Linked DNA regions of Homo sapiens. The protein of the gene in region 1 purifies or fractionates together with the protein of each later gene. This does not show direct contact. Each region holds a gene or a part of one and is shown on either strand. Other genes may lie near its edges. The genes, in order: SIRPG and LTF.

Region 1 (5,415 bases):
CAATTTGACTTTTCCAAAAATCCCTGTAGCTGAAAAATGAAAGCCAACAGAGGCTACAGAAGTGTTCCCGGAAGAGATGATGCTGGCCGGGACAGGGAGGGGTGATGGAGGTGAGAAGTGTGCAGGTTAGGGATGTAACTCAGTGCTCTCCTGCAGCAGGCTTGGACTGGCCCCTGAAAGCCAACCGTTAAGTTTCAGGAATTTTGCAATCCAGTTGTTAAACTTCTGGTAGCTTGAAACTGGCCATGTTGGGGGTGATTATACCACAGAAATTGTCAAGTACAACAAATCAGCTTTTTTTTTCCTTTAAGAGAGTCCATTTTTAAACACTTACCATCTCACGAGTGGACATAAGTATTTTGAAGGCAGAATTGAATATGGGGTGTAAAGAGACATCAGGGAGGATTCGGGAGTCAAGGAGGCTTTTGGACTGCGGCAGCATTTCCGCCATGAGCAGCAGGGCGGGGAAGCCTGCAGGATGCTAGAACTAGTGTTCCCATCACAGAGAGAGCAGGGAGAGCTTCTTTGTTTCTGAGTGTGAGGAGTAGGACCCTTAGACAAAGAGGAAGGATAATCTTTTTATTTTCTTAAAACCACTTTGGGAGTGCATTTGTATTCAAGAGGCAATAGAGAACCTCAACAAGGCTGGGGAGTTGGGATAGGCAGGAATCTGGAAGGCAGGATAACTCTTGAGAACCTGGAGAGCGTCTGTGGTTTACGGTCAGTCTCAAGGCGATGGATGGGAGTCCTGGTGTGTTTAGATTTGGCATGTTTCTCGCCTTCTAGGGAGGTGCCGTTAAGTCAGTGCCCAGAGCCCAATCCCATGGCACCTGCTCAGGACCATGAATGAAGACCTTGCTCTGGGGCATCCAGGTCTGTGTGAAGGAGCAACAGGAGCCTGTGGGCAGGCAGATGTCTTGGGAGGGGAGATGTTTGGAGCCAAGTCTAGAGAAGCTTCTCACTGGCTCATTCTCTCAAGCTGAGCCTCTCAGGAAAGGAAGGAGGCAGCAGAGATGAGGGTCCCACGTGGCAGGGGAGGAAGGAAGGAGCTGTAGGAAAACACATCCACACTTAGTCATCTGCTCATCTTTCAAGACATGTTTCCTGAGAGTCTGTTATGTTCTCGGGGCTGGTCTCCTGGGATACCTGTCACTGGTGGACAGGCAGTCCTGATAGAACTCTGCCTGCTCAGCCATCCTGCCAAGTCCTGATGCCCTTTCCAATATTCCTTCCACTCAGACACACAGAGGGTCAGAGCACAAACAGCCTTCAGGGCTTCCCATTTGGGTTTCTCAACATTAGTTTACAATGTGGATTTCTCTGACCCCATGGAGTCCCAGCATTCAAATAATCTACAGATAGCCTGCAAGGGACCACCCACTCATCACTGCCTCCATGAAACTCCTAGGGCACTGTGGACATCTTTGAACACATTTCAAGCATCCCACATTGTACACCACCCACATAATTTCTGTGGGTTGGGAGCCTTTTAAAGGGTTCCCCAAGACTTCCGAGGGTGCGGAGGGAGCTTAACTCCACGGACCCTGGTGCTGCATGGCATGTGGGCTGGGCCTTCCTGTTGGCCTTGCCCTTCTGAGACAGCCCTTGGTCTGTCCTCCCTTCCTTGTACTTACAGTCAGGTCTTCTGCTTCCAGGGGACGTAGATGGGGCCCAGGAGGACAGCTATGAGGAGCAGCGCAGTAAGGGATGATGCCGGGCCTGGAAATCAGGGAAGACGAGGGGCTATGAGAGAGACCACTTGGGAGGCCATTGTAGGGGCCTCCACTTACCCCATCTGAGGCTGCCTGGGCCCATCTATGCCCCACCTTTGAACCTGCATCCTGCCCAGGCTATCTTCACTCCAGCACAAGGCAGAAGCCACAGAAAGAGGCTCCCCATTCTCACTCATCCTGTCCCAGGTTGCCAGCTTATTCTCCTGGAGGGAAGAGGTGGAGGGGGTGTGTACTCAGGTATTCATACATGTGGCAACGGGGTTCCTCACTTGACCCTCACAAGCCTATGGGAGCAGGGATTGTCATTCCATTCTGCTAGGGAAACTGAGGCCCATGGATTTTAGGGAGGGTCACAAGGTTACTTGCATTCAAACCTAAAGAAGCTCATCACTAGTGTTCCTTAGGTTGATCCCTGAGACCATGTCCTTTGGAACAAAACAAGTCCAAATTCCTAGGGACATTTTAATGACTATAAAAGGGTAGGCAGGTGGCTTGAGGATGGCTTCACAATGAGAGTTGCAGGTTCCCTGCTTAGCCCCAGAAGTAAGGGGAGGACTCCGTGTTCTCAGAACTTGGAGGAGCCATGGAACACTGGACATAATGAAACCTTCCGGCTAGAAAACATCCTGGTGAGTCACGGAAATGGGTCTCATGCTTGGGAGGGCCTCAGATGTCACCTAGGCCACCTCCACCCCAGTGCAGGTGTCATCTGAAATCTTTCTGTTAGTTGGGCACACTCAGTTACGGGGAAGCACATGTTTGGACGCTGCATTTTTAACATGAGCAGTTCAGGCTTTTAAAATCAACATTTTTAACGCGAGCAGTTTGGGCCATTAAAGATATTACAGTATATTTTAAATAAATAAAATGGTGCTGGTGGGTCCTTAAGGAAGAAATGGAGAACTCAGCATCTGTGGCTGCTGGGGTGTTGGAGGCCGGCAGTTCTCAGCTGGGTGGCTCTCTGGGACTTCTTCTCCCTTGAGGAAAGCTGCACTGCCCAATTCCAAGTTCACTCCTCCTTCTAGGGGACAGCCCACAAGAAAGATTGGCTGAATTGAAAATAGGAAGGCCACGCTTCTCTCCTCAATTAAAAAACACTACATGACGCTCTCAGCCCTTGGGATCCTCCGCAGGAGCAGCTGGGTCTTTGTTCTACCTGCACTGTAGCTCAGCACCTCGCTCCTCCTACAGTCCTGCCTCCCCATTTCCTGAGGCATGCTGACCCTACAGCTCTTCAGGATGCTTCCTGCATTCCTGTATCCATCTCTAGTCTGCCTTACAGAGAAACTGACCTTGGTAAGTTGTCTGTAAAGCTTACTCTAAAATATAAATTTGAAGCCTGAATACTCATCAGCTCGCAATGAGGACCTCAGGGCTGGCAGTGAGTGGGGCTGGGCACCATGGCTGGGATGCAATTGATAAAACTTTCACTGGCAGTAAGCTGGGATGGCGTAACCACAGGCAGGAAATTCCTTGGCATCAGGCTTTTGAAACAAATTGGGAAATGGTAGTTATAAGGACTAACTTGTTCCATGGCTATCACTGGGCATATTTTTTTTGGGGAAATATGCTGAGAAGCTACGAGTGATTGATTATGAGTTAAGGTTCAGCGTGAAAGCAAGAGGACTTCTTGGCAGCACTGCACTTTCTTATCTCTTGTGGCTAGAGGGCAGAAAGAATAGAGGGTTGGGCCCTGGACATCATTAAAAGAGTAGCAGAATCACAGAGGAGGATGAATCTCAGCTTCAACGGTTGCTATGCTGGGGTAGGGCCCTGATGGGGAAGTTGTGGGACCCTGAGATGTGGGAGTGGACATTTGGGTCAAAGCACTCAAAGATCTTCGGTTGACTTAAGAGTTGCTGGGTACAATTGCAGCAGCATAGCTACTTATCTGTATAAAATATCCTCCCCAAATCAAATAAAAAATGAAAACAAAGTAAGTTCTGCACAACCCTGGCTCTCAGTATTACTTGAAGAGAGAAAGCCAAACTGCAAAATGACCGTGAGTCAAAACAGAACACTCACCTAACCCTAGTGCACAGTCTCTTACCCGGCTCCCACGCCACTGGTGCAGCACTTATGTAACCACAAGGCATCTTGCATTTTACCTGCCAGCCTAGACAACTTAAAATGCATTTCCAGCCTTAGTACCTGAGCAAAGATGCTACATCTGGCAAACCGAAAGCACCCAAAAATGCCAGCCCTGGTCCTGGTCCAAGCCAGTGGGTGGATGAATAACTGAAAAGCAAATGCAATCCAGTCTTGATGGTGCAGTTTTACCTCCCTGAGAAGTAAAACTATGAACCCTAGAAACATCACAAGGATCAGGAATAGGAGAAATTCCAAGGTGGGAGAGGAAGAAGGGAGACTGACTAGGGGCCTCAGGACTGAGGGACAGCCCTGCAGCCAGGCACCTGGGACCCATCCCCCAACACCAGCCCCAGCCATAAACGGAGGCAAAGGAATGACATAGAAAAGAGCAAAAGCCTCAAGTCAATTAAATCACCACTTCAAGAAACTAGAAAAAGTAGAGCAAAATAAACTCAAAGCAAGCAGGAGACAGGAATTAATAAAAAGAAGAGTGCAAAAAATGAATAAACTGGAAACACAAAAACAATTTAAAAACTCACGGAAACAAAGTGGTCCTTTGAAAAGACCAATAAAATGGAAAAAAACTATAGCAAGGCTGATGAAGAAGAAAACAGAAATGGCATATTTTAGATATGAGGTTGAAACAGGGGATATCGCCATAACCCTTCAGACACCAAAAAGATAATAAGGAGATATTATGAACAACTCTACACACAAAAATATGACAACTTAGATAAAATGGACACAAAATTCTTCAAAAGGCACGAGTTACCGGAACTCACCCAATATGAAATGAATAATATGAGTAACCCTAAACTACTGAGGAAATTGAATTTATACTTTTAAAACACCCCCAAAAATTCTTGAGGCCCAAGTGTTTCAAAGAAAAATACTGCAAAGCATTTAAATATGAATTAAAACCAAATTTAGTGCACAGAAAGATAGTCATAAAAGAAATTTGAGGAAAATTTGAATGTATACTCCATTTTAGATGATATAAGGGAATTGTTTTAATAATTTTATGAAATTTAGTGATTAAAAATTTGAAATTGTATTAACTGTAATAATGATACTGGTTTTGTTATGCTGTCTTTAGTCATAAGATCACCCAACTATGGATTCCATTTGGAACTGCGTGTACATGCATGACTGAGTTAGCTGTGGACATGATCACACGCCTTCCATACATCTCTGATTATAGAAGATATTTTTTGCCCTCCATTTCCTATATTTACTCTTCCAGCAGACAGGGACATGGAAAAATCCGTGACCTAGCACTGACCCAGCAGATAAGACTAACCACCATAAGGTATGTGGGAGGAACCTGGGCCTTTGAAAAGTCTCCTGGAGTTGAGACTCCTCCTGGTATTACACAAGAGGGAAGTAAGACATATTTTGGTCATACGGAGTGGAACACAGGCCAACTTCAGGTCCATGGGACAATGCCCAGCAGAAGAGGACTGTTTCTCTAACTAGCACAAATTTGCATTTTAGGCTGATACTGACCTTGTCCTCAGGGACCCAGATTTACTTTAATTAGTTTGAACCAATAACCCGATCTAAAGGCAAGAGGTCTTCAACAACATCCCCC
Region 2 (7,287 bases), on another chromosome or scaffold:
GATGGGGGCGAATCAGGCATTGCTCACTGTCCTTCAGCCACGGGGAGAGGCCCAGGTGGGCAGAAGGACATCAGCCTGGACACTGCAGCGGTCCTGCCCAACCAGGAGCCAGGACTGGACATCTCATGACAAGATGCCTTCAGTCCTGCTGTGGTTAGGCAGGCGGCAGAAATTAGTATGAGGAACCCAGGACAACAGGGCAGCCAAGTTGGATTCAGGGCTCTCTGAGGTAACAGGAGGGCCCACAGCCACAGTGACTGCCCGTGGGGCTGGTGAGAAGTTGGGGGCACAGTTGGGCCCGGAAGGCTGGAGGGGAACACACACTGGGCAGGCCTGCACTCTCTTTGGACACACAGCAGTAGGAGAACAGACCTCCTCTCGTCCCCAAGAGCAGGCTGGGCTCTATGTGGGGCCAGAGAAAAGGCCTCCCGGCCTGAGGCCAAGGGACACTTGGCCACTGACGAGAAGGGGACAGGGTCACTCACTTGAAGGCACCAGAGTAGCTGAAGTACGGTTCCTGGGAGGAGAAGGCACATTTGTTTTCCCCTGTCCCCGCACACAGGCGACACAGGTTGGGGAACTGTCCTTTATCTGCACCGGGAACACAGCTGGCTGAGAAGAACCTGGCCACAGCTGTTAAACACAGAGAAGTGGACCACAGAGTGTGAGCCAGCCCTGGTCACAGCAGGTTACACCTCCCATCCTGAGGTCTCCGTGGGCAAGGCCCCTTCCTCCACCCCTGCAGGAGAGACTCTGTCATGGGGCTGGGAGCTCGAGACATGCACCTCTGCCGAGAGCAGACTCAGCTGTGCCTCCCAAGGGCTGCTAGGGTAACGGATCCTGCCAGCAGGATGTTACAAGCTGGCCAGCCTCACCCCCACCTTGATTCATCCCACACTTTCACCTGCATGATCTGTGTGGCCTGTGCTTACAACTGGAATAGAGCCCCCTGCCTGAGGCCACTCACTATCCCCCAGCCATCTTACCTGCCTCAATGGGCTCAGGTGGACCCGTCCAATTCAAGAATGGACGAAGTGTCCCTATAGGGACATTCCATCCAGCGGTCCTGCGAAGGCCTGTGTGGCAGGACTTCAGACCTTGCAGTTCGTTCAGCTGAAAGCTGCCGCCCTTCTTCACCACAGCCACGGCATAATAGTGAGTTCGTGGCTCTGCAAAGGGGCAGACAGAATTGAAAGTTCTTAGCCTGGACAAGAGGGACAAAAACAACCCATCCTGAAAAGTCTCCGGTGGGAAGGGGGAATGCTGTGCTGCAGTTTCCTCACAGCTCACGTGTGTCCTCCTCTCGTGGGTCAGCGTCAGGAGGAACGGCCTTCATCTGGCCCAGAGCCCAGCGACTCCATTCCCTACATGTGTGATGTGACCCAGACTCCACCTCCACATGTTCCCCCAGTCTTAATCCACACAGCTCAGGGCACAGGCTGAGGCCACCGTGGCCTCTGGGTCCCCAGGCAGAACTCACGTCTTTCGGTCCCGTAGACTTCCGCCGCTACAGGTCGCAGTTTGTAGGGGGCCAGGCCTGCCTCGTATATGAAACCACCATCAAGGGTCACAGCATCGGCCCTGTTTTCCTGAAAGTAAAGAGGCCAGACTGGCTTCAGCAGAAAACTCACCCAAACCCAGCAAGTGGGACTTCAGGACCTCAAAAAGTCTCCATGGCTGGAAGGGTCGTCAAAGGGGTCCGCTTTCCATCCTGTCCCCTCACTTCCTATGAGAGATGGTGAGAGCCAAGGACCCCTGTTTTGGGACAGTGAGCACCAGCCCTCTAAGTCCTGAGACTGGCGCCTGCCCTCTTTCTCCTCTGCCTGCCTGTGTCACTCTCCCGATCACACCCCTCACAGTCATCTATATTTGAAGTCGTTTGTTCTAGATACTTTCTATTTTTGCTCTATATTCATTTCTTTTAAGTTCTGTTTTATTGGATAGAAAATATAGTTATTAAGCTATCCTAAAATTTTCATAAGAAACCATGTTCCTCCGCTTCAGCACATTGCTTCCCACATGATTACATATTTCTTTGGTTTGCAATGTGGGATAGTTTAGTGGTCCCCAACTTTTTTGCCACCAAGGACCAGTTTCAGGGAATGTAATTTTTCCACAGACAGATGGGGAATGGTTTTGGGATGAAACCGTTCCACCTCTGATCATCAGGCATTGGATTCTCATAGGGAGTGCAACCTAGATCCCTCGCATGCACAGTTCACACTAGGGTTCACACTCCTATGAGAATCTAATGCCGCCGCTGATCTGACAGGAGGTGGAGCTCAGGCAGTCATGCTCACTGGCCCTCTGCTCACCTCCTGGTCTGAGGTCTAGTTCCTAACAGGCCATCAACCGGTACCAGTCCGTGGCCAGGTGGTGGGGACCCCTGGGATACATCATATTTTGTGGACTGCTTATTCCTCTAAAACTGGATACATTTTCTAACTTCTGCAGAGCCTTTACTGATTTTGTAGACAGCATAATGTTTTCTCATAATGTGGGTGTTCTATCGTGTATTGAATAATTTCCCCCAATGTTTAGCATTTAAGTTTATTTCTAACTGTTTCCTGTGAAGACTGTATTTTCATGAATATCTTTGTCCTCAGTGTTTTTCCTTGTGACCACTTGTGTCCTTGGGTAGGCAGCTGAGGGTGGAATCCCCCAGATGAGGAGCACGTTTCCCCCTGTGACCCGGGCTGCCGTTGCCATTCTGCTTCCAGAAGACTTATAATACCAATTCAGAATGGCGCTGACCGTGAGGACCAGCTTCACTCTTGAATCACCAGCAGGGCAGGCTATCATTCTATTAGCTGTTATTACTATAGAAAATGTGAGTACTAACAAATCGCTCAGGTCTGATTAGTAAGGGGAACATCTCACAAGTATTTTTTATTAATTATGAATTCCCTCTTACTGGTAACTCTGTTCATATCATTTTTCTTCTATGATTCTACATTTTTTCCAATTTGGGTTATTCTTTTATTTATTTATTTTTTCGAGCGGAGTCACCCAGGCTGGAGTGCAGTGGTACCATCTCAGCTCACTGCAACCTCCACCTCCCGGGTTAAAGCGATTCTCTTGCCTCAGCCTCCTGAGTAGCTGGGACTACAGGCGTGTGCCACCATGCCTGGCTAATTTTTTTTTTTTTGTATGTTTAGTAGAGATGGGGTTTCACCATCTTAGCCAGGATGGTCTTGATCTCCTGACCTCGTGATCCACCTGCCTTGACCTCCCAAAGTGCTGGGATTACAGATGTGAGCCACCACGCCCGGCCTTGAGTTATTCTTTTATAGAGTGTAAATAGTAATCATGTGTCAGAGCTGGCGCATATTCATTCATTCCAGTCCTTTCTAATTTTTTTATTTAAATATTTTCTATGGGCTATGAATTACATTTTCTGTATTTTAGAATATCTGTTTGTTTCGTGATTTAGATCATCATTTAAGAGATTTCTATTTCCTCTACAGTTCTGCTAGTTAACCTGCCCCCTAGTTTTTCAATAATACAAGTTTTATTTTTAACCATTTAATCTATCTCAACTTTATTTGAATGAATGGTATGTAGTACTGATTTCAAACAGGGATCTTATTTTCCGAGATCAGACGAGATCAGACGCGTTCAGCGTGGTATGGCCTTGGACAGGATCTTATTTTAAAAGGCAGATTTTGTGGCTTCTTTCACATATATTCAGATTGAGTAGGTTAGAATAGAGCCTAGGAATCTGCATTTTAAACAAGCAAGAGATGCTGGTGCTGGTTTTTTGTTTTTGTTTTTTGTTTTTTGAGATGGAGTCTCGCTCTTGTCGCCCAGGCTGGAGTGCAATAGCATGATCTTGGCTCACTGCAACCTCCCCCTCCCGGGTTCAAGTGATTCTCCTGCCTCAGCCTTGTAAGTAGCTGGGAATACAGGCATGTGCCACCACACCCAGCTAATTTTTGTATTTTTAGTAGAGGCAGGGTTTCACCATGTTGGCCATCCTGGTTTTGAACTACTGACCTCAGGTGATCCTCCCACCTCGGCCTCCAAAGTGCTGAAATTACGGGCGTGAGCCACCGCGCCCAGCCACTGGTACTGTTTGTATGCAGGTAATAGTTGTAAAATAATAGCCTAAAACATTGATTAAACTAGATTTTTCCCTAAGTGCTATTCTAATAACTCCATTGTATTTATAAGATAATCCTATGAAGTTGCCTCGGGAACTTTTATGCAAATTATTCACTCTGCTGGAGTTGAGTACACATGATTATGGCACATGGCAGGTACACAGAATATATTTGTTGAATGAATGAGTAAAAATCATTTCAGTAGATCTTACATCTCAAAAAATAAAAGGAATCAGAAATCATATACAAGTCATGATACCCTTTTCTCTCTCTCTGAAAGTGTCTTGGACAAAAGTCTTTCTAACACCCAGCACCCTGGCAGGCCCTGCCCCAGCCATGTGATGTGGCAACGGTGACCAGGACAAGCTTCTTTCTCACAGGGTTTAGAGGTCATGACTCTTTTGGAGGATTTCCCTCTCTGAGTAACTTTGCTTTTTGCTGATCCTATGTATTCATCAAATACAACTGATTACATTTCATTTTGGAACAGTTGTTATTAATGAATAACAGTTGTTATTATAGTTTATGTGGAGGCTCCAGGTTCCTCACACATGGTCTCTTGACTTAAGCTCCTTCCTTTCTGCTCTGAAAATAGCACAGTTCCCTGTGAGAGAGGACGGCTCCCCACTTCGTTGCCCAACAGGTGAAGCAGAGGAAGTAAGGAGAGCTCGTGTTCTATCTTTTTCCATTTCTCTCTCCCTTCCATTCAGCTTGGTCCCAACCAACACCCGGCATTGACTCACCGCAATGGCCTGGATACACTGGATGGGGGAGTCTCTCTTTATGCAGCTGACAGGAGGGCCACGCACTTTTCTCATATTCCTTTGCCATTGGAAGCATTTTGTGGCCTCGGGTTGGGATACGGCGCACCACTGAACACTCCTCCTACGGCCAGCCAGACACAGTCCTGGGAGAGAGGGGCCAAGGAGTAAGGATTCAACCACTGACTGAGGGCGTGACCACCGCACCCTCTGATGGAGTTTTCCAGACTCCTCCCTCTCTCTCGGCTGCCCTCCTTCCCTCTCCATTTCATGGCTATGTCCAGCCATTCTCCACAAGTGGAGGCATCTTGCTGGACTAATAGGATCTCTGCATTGGCTAGAGGTCTGTGGTTCTCAATAAATTAAAGGAGAAAGTCCCTCTAGATTATTTTCATTCCTATGACTTTGACATGTTTCCTACCACTTAAAAAATGATGGTGATCCCCCAGATCAGTTATGGAATTCTTCTACCAGCTTTGCCCACTTTGAACCTGGAAGGTAGGCAGGAAAGGAGTCATTGCTCCTGTTTTACTGATGTGGAAATTGGCTCCTAAGGAGGCTGAGTGACTCGCCACTCAGCAGTGCAGAGCCCAGCTGAGAATCCACGTCTCTCTAGATTGTTTTGTGCATAAATCTCTTCCCAGGGAATGCCAAGAGAACAGGGGAAAATATACCTGAGTCGGTTGGTAGCTGAGGTAAATGGTAAGTCAGTGTCAATGGGGACAAATCAGTTGGTTGGTGTGCCTGAGCTACCACCATTCACTCTGCACAGAAAGACTGGTGCTCCTGTTGAGCCTGCTTTTTTTGCTCAAATACTGGTTCTTCTTTTGAGCCTGCTTTTGTTGCTCAAATCCATGTAATTAGGGAGGAAGATGCATTGAATTTACTCACCTGGTTGCCTGATAAAAGGCATCCACAAAAAACCTGCAATGAACATCATACTAAAATGGTGAAAGACTGACTGCTTTCCACCTAAGATCAGGAATGATGAGAGAGTGTCCACACTCAACTCTTCTATTCAACAGTACTAGAGATTCTAGTCACAGCAATAAGGCAAGAAAAGAAATGAGACACCCATATTGGAAAGAAAGAAGTAAAACTGACTTTACTTTCAGATAACATGATCTTCTATGTAGAAAATACTGAAGAATCTACAAAGTACTATTAGAATTAATAAACAAGTACAGCCAGGCCACAGGATACAAGATCAATATACAAAAATTGATCATATTTTTGCATACAGCACAGAACAATCTAAAAATGAAATTAAGAACATAATGCTAGATAGTATAACATCAAAAAGGATTTAGTACATGACGGGTAAATGATAAGAACAGACATTTTACCAAAGAAGATATATGAATGGACAATAAGCACATGAAAAGTGCTCAATATCATTAGTCAAAAATGCAAATTGAAAATGCAACGAAATATCATTTCACAGCCACTGAACAGGTTATAATAGCTAAAACAGACAATGACACATATCGATGAGGATGTGGAGAAGTGGAAACCCTCATACATTGCTGAGAATGTAAAATGACCAGCCACTTTGTAAAACAGGTTGGCAGCTTCTCAAAATGTGAAGCACAGAGTTCCAATAGGACCCAACAATTGCACTTCTAGGCATATAGCCAGAAGAAATATTATAAGAACCTATCATACATAAATGCTTGTGCATGAATATTCATAGCAGTGTTATTTAGAATAGTAGAAAACTGGAAACAACCTAAATGTCCAATAACTGGTGAATGTACATCCATTCAATGGAATATTACTCAGCAGTGAAAAGAACTACTGGCATGCCCCACAACATGAACGAGCCTCAGTTATGCTCAGTGAAGGAAGCCAGACACAAGAGACCACATGCTGTATGATTCCATTTGAATGAAATGTCCAGAAAAGGCAAATTTATGGAGACAAGAAAATAGATTAGTGGTTGTCTGATGCTGGGGTAGAAATGAGGATTAACTATAAACAGGCATGAGGGACCTTTACTGGGGGGGATAAAAGTGTTCTAAAACAGATTTATGGTGATAGTTGCACACTCGGTAAGGTTACTGAAACTCATTGAATTGTACGCAAATAGGTGATTTTTTATGATATGGAAAATGTACCTCAGTAAAGCTGTTACCAAAAACTAAAACAAAAAACAAACAAACAAAAAAACAAAATAAACACACAGTTGTAAAAGCCCTCTGCCCTTTGGATGTGCTATGGGGTAGAATGTTCAGCCTCTGCTGTCTCCTGTTTCTGAGCCATCCCCTTATGGCGAGAGCCACCCATGGCCCTTGGGTGGGCAAGAGGCCTGTAGCTCCCTGGCTGAGTCTGCAGAGGTTTGGGGACACCTAGCTGCCATACTCCCCCTTCATCCACCCTCATCCCGGGGAAATCCCAGGGAATATAATCTTGCCTTGGAAGCC

What was found.
Region 2: the proteins of SIRPG (region 1) and LTF purify together in Homo sapiens (affinity purification with mass spectrometry; 2 studies listed by BioGRID and IntAct, with this or other methods). This does not show direct contact.

Annotation. Positions count from the first base shown.
Region 1 is NC_000020.11:1,628,588-1,634,002, forward strand, and holds the end of SIRPG (signal-regulatory protein gamma isoform 1 precursor), read right to left. Parts: intron 5,134-5,415; exon of another isoform or gene 4,921-5,133; intron 1,720-4,920; coding exon 1,637-1,719; 3' UTR 1,635-1,636; intron 1,050-1,634; 3' UTR 565-1,049; downstream 1-564. UniProt on the Homo sapiens protein: Probable immunoglobulin-like cell surface receptor. On binding with CD47, mediates cell-cell adhesion. Engagement on T-cells by CD47 on antigen-presenting cells results in enhanced antigen-specific T-cell proliferation and costimulates T-cell activation.
Region 2 is NC_000003.12:46,454,810-46,462,096, forward strand, and holds part of LTF (lactotransferrin isoform 1 preproprotein), read right to left. Parts: intron 5,011-7,287; coding exon 4,847-5,010; intron 1,590-4,846; coding exon 1,481-1,589; intron 1,170-1,480; coding exon 987-1,169; intron 634-986; coding exon 486-633; intron 1-485. UniProt on the Homo sapiens protein: Transferrins are iron binding transport proteins which can bind two Fe(3+) ions in association with the binding of an anion, usually bicarbonate. Lactoferricin binds to the bacterial surface and is crucial for the bactericidal functions.